5 linked regions of the Homo sapiens genome follow. The protein of the gene in region 1 purifies or fractionates together with the protein of each later gene. This does not show direct contact. Each region holds a gene or a part of one and is shown in the gene's direction. Other genes may lie near its edges.

Region 1 (3,519 bases):
GGCAAGTGGCGTAAGGGTCTTTCTGCTCTCTCCCTCCCACGCCTTGCTGCTGTTGCTGTCACCTGGGCAGGTCTGGGGCCAGAGGCGTGACCATGCACCCACAGGAAGGGGACCCCACAGCTGGACCTAGCTTCAAGGGACATGGAGGGGCCTCGAGGGGCCCCCTGCTGGAGGGAGAAGTAAAGTCCAGTGGCACATCCTGGGCAAGTGTTCAGTTTCCAAAACCGAGGGAAATCCAGATACTTCCCAAGAAAAGAGGTTCTAGAACGAGGATTTTCAGCTTTAGAAAATTAAAAAGCTGAAGTGGAAAAGAGGATGGATTTCCTGTTTCCAGGATGCAAAGGCCTCCCAGAAAATCAGAAACCCAAATGGAAGTCATGAAAGAAAAGATAGGCTTGGTGGTTGCTTCTTCATTCACCTGTGAATGTTAGAGGCTCTGGAAGAAGAAGGAACAGGTCTGGAGATGATTAATATGATGAATAAATAATAGTGGAAATTTTCCCTGATCAGAAGAGGGCATGAGTCTGCACAGTGAAAGTGTTGGTAGAGCTCCAGGCAGGGTTACTTTAAAGAAAAAGACACACCCTTGGCATCTCCTGGTGACATTCTTGAAATCCACAGATAAAATCTCAGCGACCTCCCACAGAATAAATAAACCATTGACAAAGGAGAAAAAAAAAAAAAACATTGGCAGCAGATTTCTCATCTGCAGCACTGAAAGCCAGAGGACCAAGGCTGGCCTGGGCCCAGGATTCTCAACCAGAGCATTCATACTGTTCCCCAACCAGATTAAGAAATAGATTTTGAGCCGGGCTCAGTGGCTTACACCTGTAATCCCAGCACTTCGGGAGGCTGAGATGGGTGGATCACGAGGTCAAGAGATCGAGACCCTCCTGGCCAACATGGTGAAACCCCATTTCTAAAAATATAAAAATTAACTGGGTGTGGTGGCACGCACCTGTAGTCCCAGCTACACAGGAGGCTGAGGCAGGAGAATCACTTAAACCCGGGAGACAGAGGTTGCAGTGAGCCGAGATCGCGCCATTGCACTCCGGCCTGGGTGACAGAGCAAGACTATCTCAAAAAAAAAAAAAAAAAGAAAGAAATAGATTTTGGGCCGAGCTTGGTGGCTCAAGCCTGTAATCCCAGCACTTTGGGAGGCCGAGGCAGGTGGCTCACTTGAGGTCGGGAGTTCAAGACCAGCCTGGCCAACATGGCAAAACCCCGCCTCTACTAAAAATACAAAAATTAGCCGGGTGTGGTGGCGGGAGCCTGTAATTCCAGCTATTCGGGAGGCTGAAACACAAAAATCACTTGAACCTGGGAGGTGGAGGTTTCAGTGAACTGAGATTGTGCCATTGCATTCCAGCCTGGGCGACAGAGTGAGACTCTGTCTCAAAAAAAAAAAAAGAAAGGCTCTAATGAAATGGCAGTTGATGAGTAGAGACCCCAAGATTGAAGGAGAGGGCATCGTTGTGCATTGAGTCTCACGGTCTCAATGAGGAAAATGTCAATGGAAGGTGGCAGGGATGGGAGCCTTCTTCGGGTAGCTCTTACTGGGGTGGGTGGGGCAGAAGGAGGCAGAGAGTCGTGGGGGAGGCGGTGCTTACCCTGTTTCTATATAATGATTAGACGTATTAGAAGCAGGAAGTGCCGGGCGTGGTGGCTCACACCTGTAATCCCAGCACTTTGGGTGGCCGAGGCGGGTGGATCACGAGGTCAGGAGATCGAGACCATCCTGGCTAACAAAGGTGAAACCCCGTCTCTACTAAATATGCAAAAAATTAGCCAGGCGTGGTGGCGGGCACCTGTATTCCCATCTACTCGGGAGGCTGAGGCAGGAGAATGGCGTGAACCTGGGAGGCAGAGCTTGCAGTGAGTCGAGATCGTGCCACTGCACTCCAGCCTAGGTCTCAAAAAATAAATAAATAAAAATAAAAAGCAGGAAGTAACCCTTTGCTGAAATTACAAATTAACAATTAGAAAGGGAATAAATAGCTGGGCGTGGTGGCTCACGCCTGTAATCCCAGCACTTTGGGAGGCCGAGGCAGGCGGATCAATGAGGTCATGAGTTTTAGACCAGCCTGGCCAACATGGCGAAACCCCTTCTCTACTAAAAATACAAAAATTAGCTGGGTGTGGTGGGGTGGGCCTGTAGTCCTGCTGAGGCAGGAGAATCACTTGAACCTGGGAGGCAGAGGTTGCAGTCAGCCCAGATCGCGCAACGGCACTAGCAAGACTCTCAAAAAAAGAAAGGGAATAGGCCAGGCGTGGTGGCTAAAGTCTGTAATCCCAGCACTTTGGGAGGCCAAAGTGGGCGGGCCACAAGGTCAGGAGATCGACACCATCCTGGCTAACATGGTGAAACTCTGTCTCTACTAAACATACAAAAAATTAGCCAGGTGTGGTGGCGGGCGCCTGTAGTCCCAGCTACTCGGGAGGCTGAGGCAGGAGAATGGCATGAACCCGGGAGGTGGAGCTTGCAGTGAGCCGAGACCGCAACACTACACTCCAGCCTGGGCGACAGAGCGAGACTCTGTCTCAAAAAATAAAAAATAAATAAAAGAAAGGGAATAAATAGTAATTTTCCCAAACCATCAAAAGTATGGAAAAAGGAGTAAAATAAACCATTTACATAAAATAAAGTGGCATAAAAATGTCAGATCCCTCAGTTGTTCCAGCAAAATCAGACTGCTTTAGACTGGGTTAGAAAACAAAATCCAGATACAGTTGTTTACAACAAACATCTAAAAGAAGATAGTAAGAAAAGGTTCAAAACTACACATTGGGCACAGTGGCTCATGTCTGTAATCCCAGCACTTTGGGAGGCTTGGCTTTTTTTGAAGTCAGGAGTTTTCTTGAACAAAGCCTGGGCAGCATGGCAAGACCCATCCTGCCAAAATTACAAAAATTAGCTGGGTGTGGTGGCTCATGCCTGTTGTCTCAGCTACTTGGGAGGCTAAGGCAGGAGGGTCGATTGAGCCCAGGAGGTGGAGGTTGCAGTGAGCCAAGATTATGCCACTGCACTCCAGTTTGGGTGACAGAGTGAGATCTTGTCTCAAAAAACAAAAACACCAAAATTACAAGTTGGACAAAACCATACCAGTCACATGTAACCAAAGAGAAAGCAGAACTGGCAAAGTTAAAGTGAGTATCAAGTGGGTTTTAGGGTCCAAACTTTTTTTTCTTTTTGAAACGGAGTCTTGCTCTCTGGGTCGCTGGAGTGCAGTAGCGCGATCTCAGCTCACTGCAACTTCTGCCTCCTGGATTCAAGCAATTCTCCCACCTCAGCCTCCTGAGTAGCTGGGACTATAGGCACCCGCCACCACACCTGGCTAATTTTTGTATTTTTAGTAGAGACGGGGTTTCACCATGTTGGCTAGGCTGGTTTTGAACTCCTGATCTCAAGTGATCTGCCCACCTTGGCCTCCCAAAGTGCTGGGATTACAGGCGTGAGCCACCACACCTGGCCAGGTCCAAAGTATTAAAGGATGGATAGGATGTTAGGTAAAGATACAA
Region 2 (3,519 bases), on another chromosome or scaffold:
AAGAATGAGTAGGAACACTAAGAGTTTAAGATTAAATAGAGGGTAAACTCTCAAAGGTGACTGAGAAGGAAGAATTGGAGAGATAAAGAAGAATGAGGAGAGCATGATGCCCTGTAAATCAAGGAAAAGGGAAGGGGTGGTTATTTGTGTCAAATCCTGCTGAGAGAATTGGAGATATATCTGTCAACACTGGCAGTATTGGTGACACTAACAAGAGTGAATTTGATGGAGTCCTTGGGTACGAAAGTGAGATCAGAGTGGGTTGAACAGGGATTGGAAGATGAGGACATGGGAAGAGTGAACCTAGACAACTGCTGAAGAGTTTGGCCTTGATGGGGAGATAAGAAAGAGAAGTCACTAAAGAGCAATGTGGGACTCAGAGACTTTCTTTCATTTCTCTTTCTCTATTTTTTTTTTTTTTTTTTTTTTTAGACAGAGGCTCGCTCTGTCAACCAAGCTGGAGTGCATGGCACAATCTCGGCTCACTGCAACCTCCACCATCCCAGGTTCAAGCGATTCTCCAGCCTCAGCCTCCTGAGTAGCTGGGACTATGGGTGTGCACCACCACACCCAGCTAATTTTATACTTTTAGTAGAGATGGGGTTTCACCAGGTTGGCTGGACTGGTCTCGAACTCCTGACCTTAGGTGATCTGCCTGCCTCGGCCTCCCAAAGTATTGGGATACAGGCGTGAGCCACGGTGCCAGGCTGACTTTCTATCATTTCTTTCCATTCCCCTGTCCCTCCATTCCTCTGTCCTGCCTTCCCTTCTTCCTTGTCCAAGATGGGAGAGAGCTGGACATGTTTAAATGTTGATAGTAAGGGTCCTTTAGAGAAAGTGAAGATTCTGTAGGAGGGAGTGGGAAGCAGACAAGGTCAGTTTCCAGAAAAGGCAGGATAGATGGGATCTAGGGCATCCTCAGAGAGATGGGCCTTGAAAAGGACAGGTGCCTTCCCCACCTTAATGGGAGGGTAGAAGGAGAGGTTGCATGTAGGGGTAGGCAGGTTAGAGTTTCAGCTCGAAGGCTTCTGTTATCCAGGAGGCTAGATCTTCTTTTGAGAGTAAAGAGTGGGAGAGAGATCAGAGTTTCTGGGAGAGTGGAGAGGATTTGAAATAGCGGTTGTAAAAAGGAGAGAATGAGCAGACAGAAAAGTGAGGAGTACGGTTTGGGATTATGGATTTACTTTGGAATTAATCTGTGTTGTTAATTTTTTGCCAGCAGCTCCTGACTTCCTGGGTGCAGGCATGATCAAAGGAAATGGCTGGCTTCAAGATGGTTAGGGTTCTGCTAAGTAGTTAGGATAGATTTGAGTATTAAGAGTTCTAAGTATAAGCAAGGACCATTGATTTTTTGGTCACTTGGCGAGGTGTTGGGAATACAAAGATGTGACAGTTTCCATTTTAAAGGGACATCTGTCCAGAAGAGAAACCTAAACATATATAGGTGGATATCATGCTTTAAGAAACCATGCATCAGGGTAATGACGCATGGGTCCCACATTGCTCTTTAGTGACCTCTCTTTCTTATCTCCCCATCAAGGCCAAACTCTTCAGCAGTTGTCTAGGTTCACTCTTCCCATGTCCTCATCTTCCATTCCCTGTTCAACCCACTCTGATCTCACTTTCACACTCAAGGACTCCATCAAATTCATTCTTGTTAGTGTCACCAATACTGCCAGTGTTGACAGATGTACCTCCAGTTCTCTCAGCAGGATTTGACACAAATAACCACCCCTTCCCTTTTCCTTGATTTACAGGACATCATGCTCTCCTTATTTTTCTTTATCTCTCCAATTCTTCCTTCTCAGTCACCTCTGATAGTTTACCCTCTACCCAGCTAACACTACCTATTTCATAGAGTTGTTATGAGGATTAAATAAGGAAGTTGGAACATTTGGAACTGGTAAGTAGTAAGTACCTCATCATCGTTTGGATTATTAATCATTTCCTTTCTGTCCTCACTGTTGCCATCATCCTTTCATTATACCTGATCTATGGAAGTAGTGTAATGAGTCTCCCTGCCTCCTCACCCTACATATCACGGCCTAAAGATGTATTCCTCAAACTGCTTTTCATGACACCCTCCTCATAAATCTTAAAGAATTTCTCACTGGCTAACTCTCATGACCCTCACGGCCTCTCATAACCTTGTTCTAACTTAGCCCTTTAATAGCCCTACTTTCATAGACTACTGAATACTCTCCGAATACCACATAATCATTATCACTTTCACCCCATGATCATTTAATTCTTCTATTTTCGAATCCTCTTCTCTTCCTCAATATAGGGCTTAGTTCATATCCTGCTTCCTTCATGAACTCTTTCCTAATTTCTCAAAACTACATTGATATCTTCCTGAACCGAACTGTTCCACACATTGAACACTCATACAGGCTCTACTGTATTGATTTTTAAAATAGCCAGTCACCCACTTATGAAGATTCAACTTAACCAACTAATGACACTTATCCAACTAAACCTACTTAGAGCACTTCAGGTTGGCAGCATGGTAGCTAGGTGAAATAGCATATATCAGTCACTGTGTGCCAGACAGTGTGCTGAGTGATTAATGTATGCTATTTCATTTAATACAGTAACTGTAGGACCCCTGATTTTGAAACTGAACCTTAGCGAGGTTGGGTCAGCTGCCCAAGGTCACTAGCTAGTGACCCAGGCTTGTATTAATACAATATTATTACTTCTACTTAAGAAGTGATAATAGGCCAGGCATGGTGGCTCATGCCTGTAATCCCAGCACTTTGGGAGGCCGAGGCAGGTGGATCGTCTGAGGTCAGGAGTTCGAGACCAGTCAGGCCAACATGGTGAAACCCCGTCTGTACTAAAAATAAAAATTAGCCAAGCATGGTGGCATGTGCCTGTAGTCCCAGCTGCTCGGGCGGCTAAGGCAGGAGGATCGCTTGAACCCAGGAGGCAGATGTTGCAGTGAGCTGAGATTGCGTCACTGCACTCCAGCCTGGGCGATAGAGTGAGACTCCATCTCAAAAAAAAAAAAAAAAAAGTGATAATAGAAAATTTTCTTCTATGGCTGGTATTGCTCAGAAGGTAATTCTAAAAAAGAGTTTTAAAATGTTCTGTTCATGGCCAGGTGCAGTGGCTCATGCCTATAATCCCAGCACTTTGGGAGGCCGAGGTGGATGGATCATTTGAGTTCAGGAGTTCAAGATCAGCCTGGCCAACATAGTGAAACCCCGTCTCTACTACAAACACAAAAATTAGCTGGGTGTGGTGGCATGTGCCTGTAGTCCCAGCTACCTGGGAGGCTGTGGCATGAGAATCGCTTGGATTTTATATTTTAAAGCAGAAATTCTTCCTTTTCTCCCTCTTTTCTCCTTTTTTCCATTTCTTCTCCCACATGACTGACCATTTGTTTCCCAGGAGTTACCACTCTTTTATTATTCATCACACTGTATAACTCCTTGTCTGTGTAACTGCGAGAGGTTCTCAAAGCCCCAGAATTGATGGCATTCTTTTATACTTTTTATATCCTCAGAACTTCAG
Region 3 (3,519 bases), on another chromosome or scaffold:
AAAAATGGGGACATATCTAAGTGAAATTTATGTTTGTTTACGTGGTTACAGATGTTAAAAGCTTGGTTCTCTATATAACACATTCCTTACTTAATGTTTAAATATTCTCCGGTACCCAGATGAAAGGGAAATTAATAGTCTGGCCATTAGAGAGGACTTTGCCCTATTCTCGTGGAACTTTATACTTTCTCAGTGACCTACCTTTTCTCTTTTTTTTTCTTTCTATATTTAAAAAAATTCTTATGATGACTGTCATCATGTGATAAATTTTCCCCACCATTAGAAGAAACCACTTAGAAACACAATTATTTCACCCTTGACTTCTCAGTATGTGAAAGCCCTTGTTAGATTTAGATGTAGATCTTCAAAGGGTGCTGTTGTGAAGAAAAGGGCCTAATGTTAATATACACTTCCCTCTAGGCTGGCTTTAATATAGATAACAACTGCATCCTTTCTACAGTTGACTCTCCTTAAGCTCATAGTGCATTTCACAGTTAGTTTGCTATTTTAGTATTTACAGTTCTCTGAATTTTTTCACCCTTTGTACATCCTTCTGTGGTTGTGACATTAGTATGATTCTCCTTTCCCCCATGCCTCCCACGTTTCTTCCTGTAGAGAAACTTCCCACCCGAAGTTTCTTGTCATATGTCTTCTACTCACATTACATCACACAAACAGGAGGTGACACATGAAGTTTTTTTTGTTTTTTTTTTTTTTGAGATGGAGTTTCACACTTGTTGCCCAGGCTGGGGTACAAGGGCGCAATCTCCACTCACTGCAATCTCTGTCTCCCGGGTTCCAGTGATTCTTTTGCCTCAGCCTCCCAAGTAGCTGAGATTACAGGCATGCACCACCACACCTGGCTAATTTTTTGTATTTAGTAGAGATGGGGTTTCATCATGTTAGTCAACCTGGTCTCAAACTCCTGACCTCAGGAGATACACCCACCTTGGCCTCCCAAAGTGCTGGGATTACAGGCGTGAGCCACAGCGCCCAGCCCTACATGAAGTTTTAAATACTTATTTCAGTATATTTTAATTTTTTCTGCTGTTGGCTTTCTGAGTAGTTTTCTTTCTGCTATCAAAGTAATTTTTCTTTCATTTTGGCAAGGCTCCATTTGAATTTATAGGACTGTCCAGTTGGTAAAATCAAGAATCTTAGCAGTGTATTAGCTTATGTATGAAGAACGCCTTAAAGATACAAAAGAAACTGTTGAGAGTGGATGCCTCTGGAAAGTGAGTTACAAAAATAGAGTGGAGCCAGGCACGGTGGCTCACGCCTGTAATCCTAGCACTTTGGGAGGCCGAGGCGGGTGGATTCCCTGAGCTCAGGAGTCCGAGACCAGCCTGGGGAACACGGTGAAACCCTGTCTCTACTAAAAATACAAAAAATTAGCCAGGCGTGACGGCGTGCGCCTGTAATCCCAGCTGCTCGGGAGGCCTTGACAGGAGAATTGCTTGAATCCAGGAGGCGGAGGTTGCAGTGAGCTGAGATCACGCCGCTGCACTCCAGCCTGGGTGACAGAGCGAGACTCTGTCTCAAAAAAAAAAAAAAAGAAAAAGAAAAAAAAATAGAGTGGAATTTTCTTTTACCAAAACAATTAAGGGCATATACAACTTTTAAGTATTTATAGTGTATCACTTTTATAGTAATTTTTTTGAAAAGCACCACATGTTAGAGCTAATGATCTAGAATCTTATTCTGATCAAACCACATTTTAATAAGTGAGGAGACTTAAAACCCCAATAGATTAGACTAAAAAAATAACAAAATAAATGAGGAAACTAAGGCTTATAGAGATGGTTATTTGTAGATCACAAAGTGGCAAAGCCAAGACTGAAGTTCAGGCCTCCTGACTTTTATCTAGTGCTCTTTCTTGCATCATTTTGCCTCTGCTATGATGAACATTTTTTACATGTGCTTTATAACCATGTGGCTATAAAACATATTTTTATATGTCATTTGCAGGACCTAATACTTTTTTTCTTTTTCTTTTTTTTTTTTTGAGGCAAAGTCTCGCGCTGTCGCCCAGGCTGGAGTGCAGTGGCGCTATCTCGGCTCACTGCAACCTCCACCTCCCTGGTCCAAGTGATTCTCCAGCCTCAGCCTCCCAAGTAGCTGGGATTACAGGCATCTGCAACCACACCCGGCTAAATTTTGTGTTTTAGGAGAGATGGGGTTTCACCATGTTGGCCAGGCTGGTCTCAAACTCCTGACCTCAAATGATCCTCCTGCCTCGGCCTCCTAAAGCTCAGGGATTACAGGTGTGAACCATACACCCTGCCTGCAGTCCCTAATACATTTCAACCTTTTATAAGTCAACAGATACTCCCTGAGACGCTGGTATGTATGAGGCAGTCTGGTATTAATTGTAGGAAATATACAGGTAACATATAGTTTCTACCTTTGCAGATCTCATGGTATAATGGTGAAAATGACTAGAGCACTTTACTTATTCCTTCACCAAATATTTGTTACTCTGAGCAATGAGTTAAGGATAAGGCACTGGCTGGCTGTTAAAGATGTTGGGTGTTAAAGACAGAGAAAAAGCATCCGTTAATCTGTTCTAAGGAAAGTTATGATCTAATAGACAAAGCAAACACATTTGTATATAAATTATAATGCTGTATAAGTCCAACAATAGAAATATGCAAAAATACGGCAAAGGAAAATGATCAACTAAGATAAAATAGAGACACTTAAGAGACTGGAGGACTTGATAAGGTAAAGTGTGGTGAAAAGTGTAGAAAGATTAAAGACTGTGGTCAGACGGTTGAATGTTGTTGGAGTGAGCAATTTCAGAGGTAGAGCATTTCTCATGTAATGTGATCTAGTGTGTAGCCTTGGAGTGGGTTTCTGAAGTGGAGAGTTGAGGTCTAAGTGTAACAACTTTGAGACTGGCTGTTAACCAAGTTTTTGTGAGAGATGTTAGAGACATAAAAGTAATTTAGATAAGTCCTTTCTTTAAGGAGTCATGTCCTCTCTGAAACCTTTTCTGATTGAACCCCATATCCAGATATAATAAACCAGGCTCTTTTTGTCCCTATATTGCTATAATACCTATATCACTATATTTTGTTTTTATTTACATATTATCTTTCTCAACTATGCTGTAGGGTTCTTGAGGACAAGGATACAAAATCATTTACACCTAGTGTAATATGTGATATCACATATAACTTGTACACCATAAATATACATTGAGTTGAAGATCTTGTAGACTTAAAAACAAGAGACAAATTAAAAACGTACTCTGATAAAGGCATATTAATGTATGTACGAGAGTAGTGCTACTTCATCTGGCTGCATAATGAATGATCTAGAGAGCTTTTCAAAAAATGCCTCTAGGCTGGGCGCGGTGGCTCACGCCTGTAATCTCAGCACTTTGGGAGGCCAAGGCGGGCGGATCACTTGAGGCCAGGCGTTCGAGACCAGCCTGGCCAACATGGTGAAACCCCGTCTCTACTAAAAATATGAAAACTTAGCCAGGTGTTGCGGTGCATGCTTATAATCTCAGCT
Region 4 (3,519 bases), on another chromosome or scaffold:
TTTAAGCTAAAATTCAACACTTTTCTTAACTAATTTAACTGGTATGGTCTCCATAGTAGTCCACTGTTTTGTTTCCTGTGTTAACTTCCCTTTTGTTTCAAAAGCTCTTAGAATAAGGAGTCAACTGGATTTTTATGTCCATGGACCCCTTGTGATTATATGCAGTGTACGCTGTGTGTGCGTGTGTGTGTGTGTGTGTGTGAGAGAGATCCTTTTACTTAGAAAAAGGTCTACTATGCTCATTAGAAGATCAAAAGCAGATTCTCCTTACTTGTAACATAGGAGTTTCAGGATTAATCTGTATTCAAGCTCATTCTATATCCTTCATCAAAGAAAAGACAATGTTTTGTGTCTGTTGTCCCTCTCACACACAGCCCTAATATATAATGTGTAACTGCCTTATCTGCAGCCCTAAACTAATATAGCTAGAGGTCTTCTAATCATTCTCCTACCTCTAGGAAAGAAATATAGTCTTGAAAACTGCCAATCTGGTGTGCATACAAAATATATACAAAATACCAAGGAACATTATATGAGCCTTTTGCTAGGTATATCTAAGCAACTGCTTCAGTTAATGGCCACTTTACAAATTGCTGAAAGAAGGAAACGTCTTTCGATTCTTTTTTTTTTCTTTTTTTTTTTTTGAGACAGAGTCTCTGTCTGTTACTCAGGCTGTAGTGCAGTGGCACAATGATAGCTCCCTCCAGCCTCAAACTCCTGGGCTCAAGCATTCCTTCTGCATCAGCCTCCTGACTAGCTGGAACTCAGGCTCATGCCACCAGACCTGGCTAATTTTTCTGTTTTCAGTAGAGAAAATATTTTCTTTCACTAATTTAACTGGTATGGTTTCCATTGTCTACCCAGTTTTCCATATGCATAAGAAAATATATTCACAGGAAAATATAAAGTTTTCAGATTTCATGAGTGGTTTTAAGAAAGTTTTAGTCAGTGAAAAAACTATCATACCAGTCTTCAAAGGAAGGGTGAAATAAGTTCATCTGCTACGTTGCCCAGGCTGGTCTTGAAGGGAAACAGACTTTTTTGTAGTCATACTTATCCTTTGGCTTCTTAGTAAGTATTATATAGTCATTACTTTTTGCAGTTTTTTAGATCAAAGTGTTAATGTAGGTAAAGTTAATTTTAGAATATATGTAAAAGTCAAGTCTGCTTTAAATTTAATCATCTCTTTGGTGAAAGGGATGGGATGGAGCTTTGCTTTTTATCATATATTCATCTGTACCTTTCAAGTATTCAAATAGAAAAATATAAACAATGTAAATAAAATAGCAAAACAATGTAATATCTCATAAAACTGCAATGGTAAAAGCATTTATCCTATTGAAATTCCACAATTTTTATTTGAAAATATTATCGACATGTAATTCAAGTGGCATTTAGAAGAATAATTTAAAAGCAACAACTCTATAGAAAGCTTGTAAAATGATTAAGTAGTTTAAACCAAATAAAACAATTTCTGAGTCAGTCATCTCCAGTAGGTCTATTTTAGTCTCAAGATAAATTCATTTCTGGTGACAACTGAAGTTCTTAGTTATTTGTTAGTATATATTGGAGACATTTACAATAAAGCTTAGAGCACAATGGGAAATGAAAGTATCATGTTTTTTTTAAGACCAAATGTATTGCAGAAATGTGAGTAATTTAATCCGATGCTACAATCTGATCATTCTGATCTAATCTGATCATTTAATAACACTAAATAAAACCTTCATCTCACATTCTTTGGCTGTTTCTTTTAAAATATGGGTTTACGGATAAATCAAATAAATTCAAAACAAAGTAATAAGCAAATGATTTTTTTTTCTCAGTAATCTAGTAGAGTATTACATTTAGAAGTAATCTGTATCTCAGTGCAGTAACTATTTAGGACTGTAAGCGCCGCTGTTCACCTACTGGAAGACAAATGCAACCGAAAACACTCAGATCTCACACCTCACGAAGACCCGCAGATGCCACAAACTAACTGCTGGACTGCAGCGAAACCCGACCCCTGTTTGGAGGCACTCCAGGTTTCCGGAGGATTGTCATCTCCATAGCTGCGGCAAGAAACTAAATAAGACCCATTTATGCACAGTGAAGATTCTGAGAGGATTCTGCAGCAAAACAACAATGGCCGCTCCACAGAGTCGCCCCAGACGCGGCGAGCTGATCCTGCTGTGCGCGCTGCTGGGAACGCTGTGGGAAATCGGGAGGGGACAGATTCGCTACTCTGTGCCAGAAGAGACGGACAAAGGCTCCTTCGTGGGTAATATCTCCAAGGACCTGGGGCTGGACCCCCGGAAGCTGGCGAAGCACGGAGTCCGTATCGTCTCCAGAGGTAGGACGCAGCTCTTTGCTCTGAACCCGCGCAGCGGCAGCTTGATCACCGCGGGCAGGATAGATCGGGAGGAGCTCTGCGCTCAGAGCCCGCGGTGTCTGATAAATATTAACACCCTGGTTGAGGATAAAGGAAAACTCTTTGGGGTAGAAATAGAAATAATTGATATTAACGATAATAACCCAAAATTCCAGGTCGAAGATCTAGAAGTAAAAATTAACGAAATCGCGGTTCCTGGAGCACGTTATCCACTCCCAGAAGCTGTTGACCCGGATGTGGGCGTGAACTCCCTCCAGAGCTACCAGCTCAGCCCCAATCACCACTTCTCCCTGGACGTGCAGACTGGAGACAATGGAGCCATAAACCCAGAGCTGGTGCTGGAGCGCGCCCTGGACAGGGAGGAAGAGGCTGCTCACCACCTGGTCCTCACGGCCTCGGATGGCGGCAAGCCGCCTCGCTCTAGCACAGTGCGCATCCACGTGACAGTGTTGGATACAAATGACAATGCCCCGGTTTTTCCTCACCCGATTTACCGAGTGAAAGTCCTTGAGAACATGCCCCCAGGCACGCGGCTGCTTACTGTAACAGCCAGCGACCCGGATGAGGGAATCAACGGAAAAGTGGCATACAAATTCCGGAAAATTAATGAAAAACAAACTCCGTTATTCCAGCTTAATGAAAATACTGGGGAAATATCAATAGCAAAAAGTCTAGATTATGAAGAATGTTCATTTTATGAAATGGAAATACAAGCCGAAGATGTGGGGGCACTTCTGGGGAGGACCAAATTGCTCATTTCGGTGGAAGATGTAAATGACAATAGACCAGAAGTGATCATTACGTCTTTGTTTAGCCCAGTGTTAGAAAATTCTCTTCCCGGGACAGTAATTGCCTTCTTGAGTGTGCATGACCAAGACTCTGGAAAGAATGGTCAAGTTGTCTGTTACACACGTGATAATTTACCTTTTAAATTAGAAAAGTCAATAGGTAATTATTATAGATTAGTGACAAGGAAATATTTGGACCGAGAAAATGTCTCTATCTACAATATCACAGTGATGGCCTCAGATCTAGGAACACCACCTCTGTCCACTGAAACTCAAATCGCTCTGCACGTGGCAGACATTAACGACAACCCTCCTACTTTCCCTCATGCCTCCTACTCAGCGTATATCCTAGAGAAC
Region 5 (3,519 bases), on another chromosome or scaffold:
TTTTTTCTGTGCTTTGGTTAGTAAATTAGTATTCCCCTGGTATTCCATTCAATCTATCGTGGCATTTTAAACCTGCCTTCTGGCCAGCACAAGCTTTCTATTTTAACTTAAAGCTACTGTTCCAGGTATATGTCTTAAAGTTTCTTGAGCTGCTGGCTATATGCCATTTTTGTCCATAGTTTTCTTTCTTAAAACAGGACAGTATATCTTTGTGTGTACGTAAATTTTTTTTTTTTATTCAGACCTCATTCGTTTTAGGTAATTAGAAGGCCTGAAAGTAAAAGATCTGATCATAGGGAACTATATAAAAATAAAATACTTGTTATAACTCTTTGAGTTCAGAGTTCAGCAAAAGACCATATATTCTTCTTCTGACACCTCACTTCCCTCTTTTCATATCTCACTGGTATGTTTCCTGGTTCCATTCTATTATCTTACTATAACATTTTCTTAAGTCAGTTTTGTTATATGTTTAAACTGTGAGTCTGTAGGAAGAAGAGCAAATATGGAGTATCTAGTATTTGCTATAAACAAGGGTTGGCATGTTATAGGCTTCTAAATTAATCTTTCCATTACACTATGAGATAGAGTCTTTGACTCAAGATTCCCATTTTATAGACAAGGAGGCTCAGAGAAGTCAAATAAGTCTCCAGGGATACACATGCAGGGTGGAGACAGGATGGACCAAAACTCTTTGCTTTCTACCATATGCTTAGAACATCCCTGGTACATAACACTATTGTAAGAACTAGCTATTATTAAAATTATTGGTCTTTGTTAACCAAAATGCCTGATACATAATCGATACTCAGTAAACACTGAATACATGTATGAATGGATGAGAGGAAAAAAATGTCTCAACAATAATTTTTTAAGATACTCATTTAAAATGCATTTTAAATGGCATTTTACCTATGCAGAGCTCAGAAAAATATTTGCATAAGCTATTACTAAATAAGATAGAAATAGTAATTTTAAAAGTCAGTTTATATTGATATACTTGGAATTAACTGTTTTCTCTTTGATAGGTGTATAAGAAGTAAAAATGGGCCAGGCACTGCGGTTCACGCCTATAATCCCAGCACTTTCCGAGGCCAAGGTGGGTGGATCACGAGGTCAAGAAATTGAGACCATCCTGGCCAACATGGTGAAACCTTGTCTCTACTAAAAATACAAAAATTAGCTGGTCATGGTGGCACACGCCTGTAGTCCCAGCTACTTGGGAGGCTGAGGCAGAATTGCTTGAACCCCGGAGGCGGAGGTTGCAGTGAGCTGAGATGGCGCCGCTGTACTCCAGCCTGGCGACAGAGACTCCATCTCAAAAAAAAAAACAAAACTAAAAATGTAGTTCATCTTTTAAGTTTCAGAATTTTAAAAATGTTCAAAATGTATGTCAGTCTTTATTTCTCCCCAATTATTTGCTCCCTTTTTGAGATAATAAAATTCACTGTTAGAAAAATAAGTATCTTACTGCTTCCTTGTGTAGAATTACCTCTCATTAAATAATTGGGAGAAAATAATTGAGTTTATAATAGTTCACATTTATTGCATTCTTTTGATATGCCAGGCCAGTGTTCTCAGCACTTTTCATGTACTAATTTTTTTATTCTTAACCACAGTCCTATGACGTAAATATTATTTTACCAATGGGGAAACTGAGGCATAGAACAATTAAGTTGCTGAAGGTTACACAGCTAGTGAACGGCAAAGCCAGGATATACATTCAGGCAGTCCAACTCACTATTAATCACTATACCAGATTTACAAATTTTTTTTTTTTTTTTTTTTTTTGAGACGGAGTCTCACTCTGTTGCCCAGCTGGAGTGCAGTGGCGCGATCTCGGCTCACTGCAAGCTCCGCCTCCTGGGTTCACGCCATTCTCCTGCCTCGGCCTCCTGAGTAGCTGGGACTACAGGCGCCCGCCACCACGCCCGGCTAATTTTTTGTCTTTTTAGTAGAGACGGGGTTTCACCGTGTTAGCCAGGATGGTCTGGATCTCCTGACCTCGTGATCTGCCTGCCTCGGCCTCCCAAAGTGCTGGGATTATAGGCGTGAGCCACTGTGCCCGGCCTACAAATCTGTTTTTTAAACATTAAACAAAGCTTTTATCTTTAGCTATATTAATTTTGTAAGAGCAGCAAACATCTGAGTATGTCACTGGTTTTTCTTAAGTAGGCTTTTTCTTTTTCTTTTAAATGTAATTTCTTTTTTAAAGACAAGGTCTCACTATGTTGCCCAGGCCAGAGTGCAATGGTGTGACCATAGCTTACTGCAGCCTAAAGTACTGGGCTCAACCAAGCCTCCCGAGTAGCTAGGACTACAGGTGTGTACTCGGCTAATTTTTTAATTTTTGTAGAGACAAGGTCTCACTTTTGCCCAGGCTAATCTCGAACCCCTGGCCTACAGTAATCCTGCCTCAGACTCCCAAAGCGCTGTGATTGTAGGTATGAGCCACCGCACCTGGCCCTGCTTTTAACTTTCGCTAATATGGGAAACTAATTTTAACTAGGGTACTGGTAATTCAGATATTATTCATTTTTTTCTTCAGCACTTGGCATAATTAATGATGGGCTGAATTACCTTTATAGAATTAAATAATAAAATATAAACTAGTTTTATTTAATTCTCAAAAAAAGCATTTAGGATCAAACATAAACATCTATAAGGGAGCCAGTGGCAGTTAATAGGCAAAATCAGTAAGAGGCCTGGAAGAAGACATTTAGGACAATCCATCACTGCTTTTGAAAACAAAACTCAGTTTAATCTCAGTTGTAGGGTAGGTTGGCAGTCATATCTGCATATGAATTGAACTCATGATAAAATACTTTTAATAATGTATAAATATTAAAGTTTATTATGAGTTATGTATACAGGTTTTTAATTCTATCCTTTTCCAAAAATGAGGTCACTAACCATAATTTACTGAGTAAATGCCAAACATGTCTAAGTTGTACTTGAACATATATATTTTCAGGTTGCTTCTTTCCCAAGAAATTATAAATTATCTTTCAATACTAAGGAAATTTATGGGTAAGCTGTCCAATTACTATAAACTATGTTATTTGTTTTTTGTTTTGTTGGTTTCTTTTTTTTTTTTTTTTTTTTTGAGACAGGATCTTGCTCTGTTGCCCAGGCTGGAGTGCAGTGGCATGATCATGCCTCACTGCATCTTCAACCTTCCGGGCTCAAGCAATCCTCACACTCTGCTAATTTTTGTTATTTTTTTGTAGAGACAGGATTTTGCCATGTTACCCAGGCTGGTCTCAAACTCCTGAGCTAAAGTGATCTACCAGCCTTGCCCTCTCAAAATGCTGGGATTACAGGTGTGAGGCAACACACTCAGCCTGTTACTTCTTATTTTTACCTTTAGTTGCTTTTCATCACAAATAGAAATACAGGTAACTTAAAACATGTACTTTTTTTTATACAGTGTAGAGACTGAAGTTGGTGATTACATGTTCTGCTTTGACAATACATTCAGCACCATTTCTGAGAAGGTGATTTTCTTTGAATTAATCC

The links.
Region 2: the proteins of SLC25A29 (region 1) and OSTM1 purify together in Homo sapiens (co-immunoprecipitation; one large-scale study listed by IntAct). This does not show direct contact.
Region 3: the proteins of SLC25A29 (region 1) and SLC12A6 purify together in Homo sapiens (affinity purification with mass spectrometry; one large-scale study listed by BioGRID and IntAct). This does not show direct contact.
Region 4: the proteins of SLC25A29 (region 1) and PCDHGB4 purify together in Homo sapiens (co-immunoprecipitation; one large-scale study listed by IntAct). This does not show direct contact.
Region 5: the proteins of SLC25A29 (region 1) and TMED5 purify together in Homo sapiens (co-immunoprecipitation; one large-scale study listed by IntAct). This does not show direct contact.

The regions. Positions count from the first base shown.
Region 1 is NC_000014.9:100,299,942-100,303,460, reverse strand, and holds part of SLC25A29 (mitochondrial basic amino acids transporter), read left to right. Parts: intron 1-3,519. UniProt on the Homo sapiens protein: Mitochondrial transporter of arginine, lysine, homoarginine, methylarginine and, to a much lesser extent, ornithine and histidine. Does not transport carnitine nor acylcarnitines. Functions by both counter-exchange and uniport mechanisms.
Region 2 is NC_000006.12:108,064,740-108,068,258, reverse strand, and holds part of OSTM1 (osteopetrosis-associated transmembrane protein 1 precursor), read left to right. Parts: intron 1-3,519. UniProt on the Homo sapiens protein: Required for osteoclast and melanocyte maturation and function.
Region 3 is NC_000015.10:34,331,269-34,334,787, reverse strand, and holds part of SLC12A6 (solute carrier family 12 member 6), read left to right. Parts: intron 1-3,519.
Region 4 is NC_000005.10:141,390,687-141,394,205, forward strand, and holds part of PCDHGB4 (protocadherin gamma-B4 isoform 1 precursor), read left to right. Parts: intron 1-1,946; exon of another isoform or gene 1,947-2,127; coding exon of another isoform or gene 2,128-3,519. Other genes in the region: PCDHGA8 (protocadherin gamma-A8 isoform 1 precursor), read left to right, coding at 2,128-3,519. UniProt on the Homo sapiens protein: Potential calcium-dependent cell-adhesion protein. May be involved in the establishment and maintenance of specific neuronal connections in the brain.
Region 5 is NC_000001.11:93,156,395-93,159,913, reverse strand, and holds part of TMED5 (transmembrane emp24 domain-containing protein 5 isoform 1 precursor), read left to right. Parts: intron 1-1,028; coding exon of another isoform or gene 1,029-1,099; intron 1,100-3,430; coding exon 3,431-3,519. UniProt on the Homo sapiens protein: Potential role in vesicular protein trafficking, mainly in the early secretory pathway. Required for the maintenance of the Golgi apparatus; involved in protein exchange between Golgi stacks during assembly.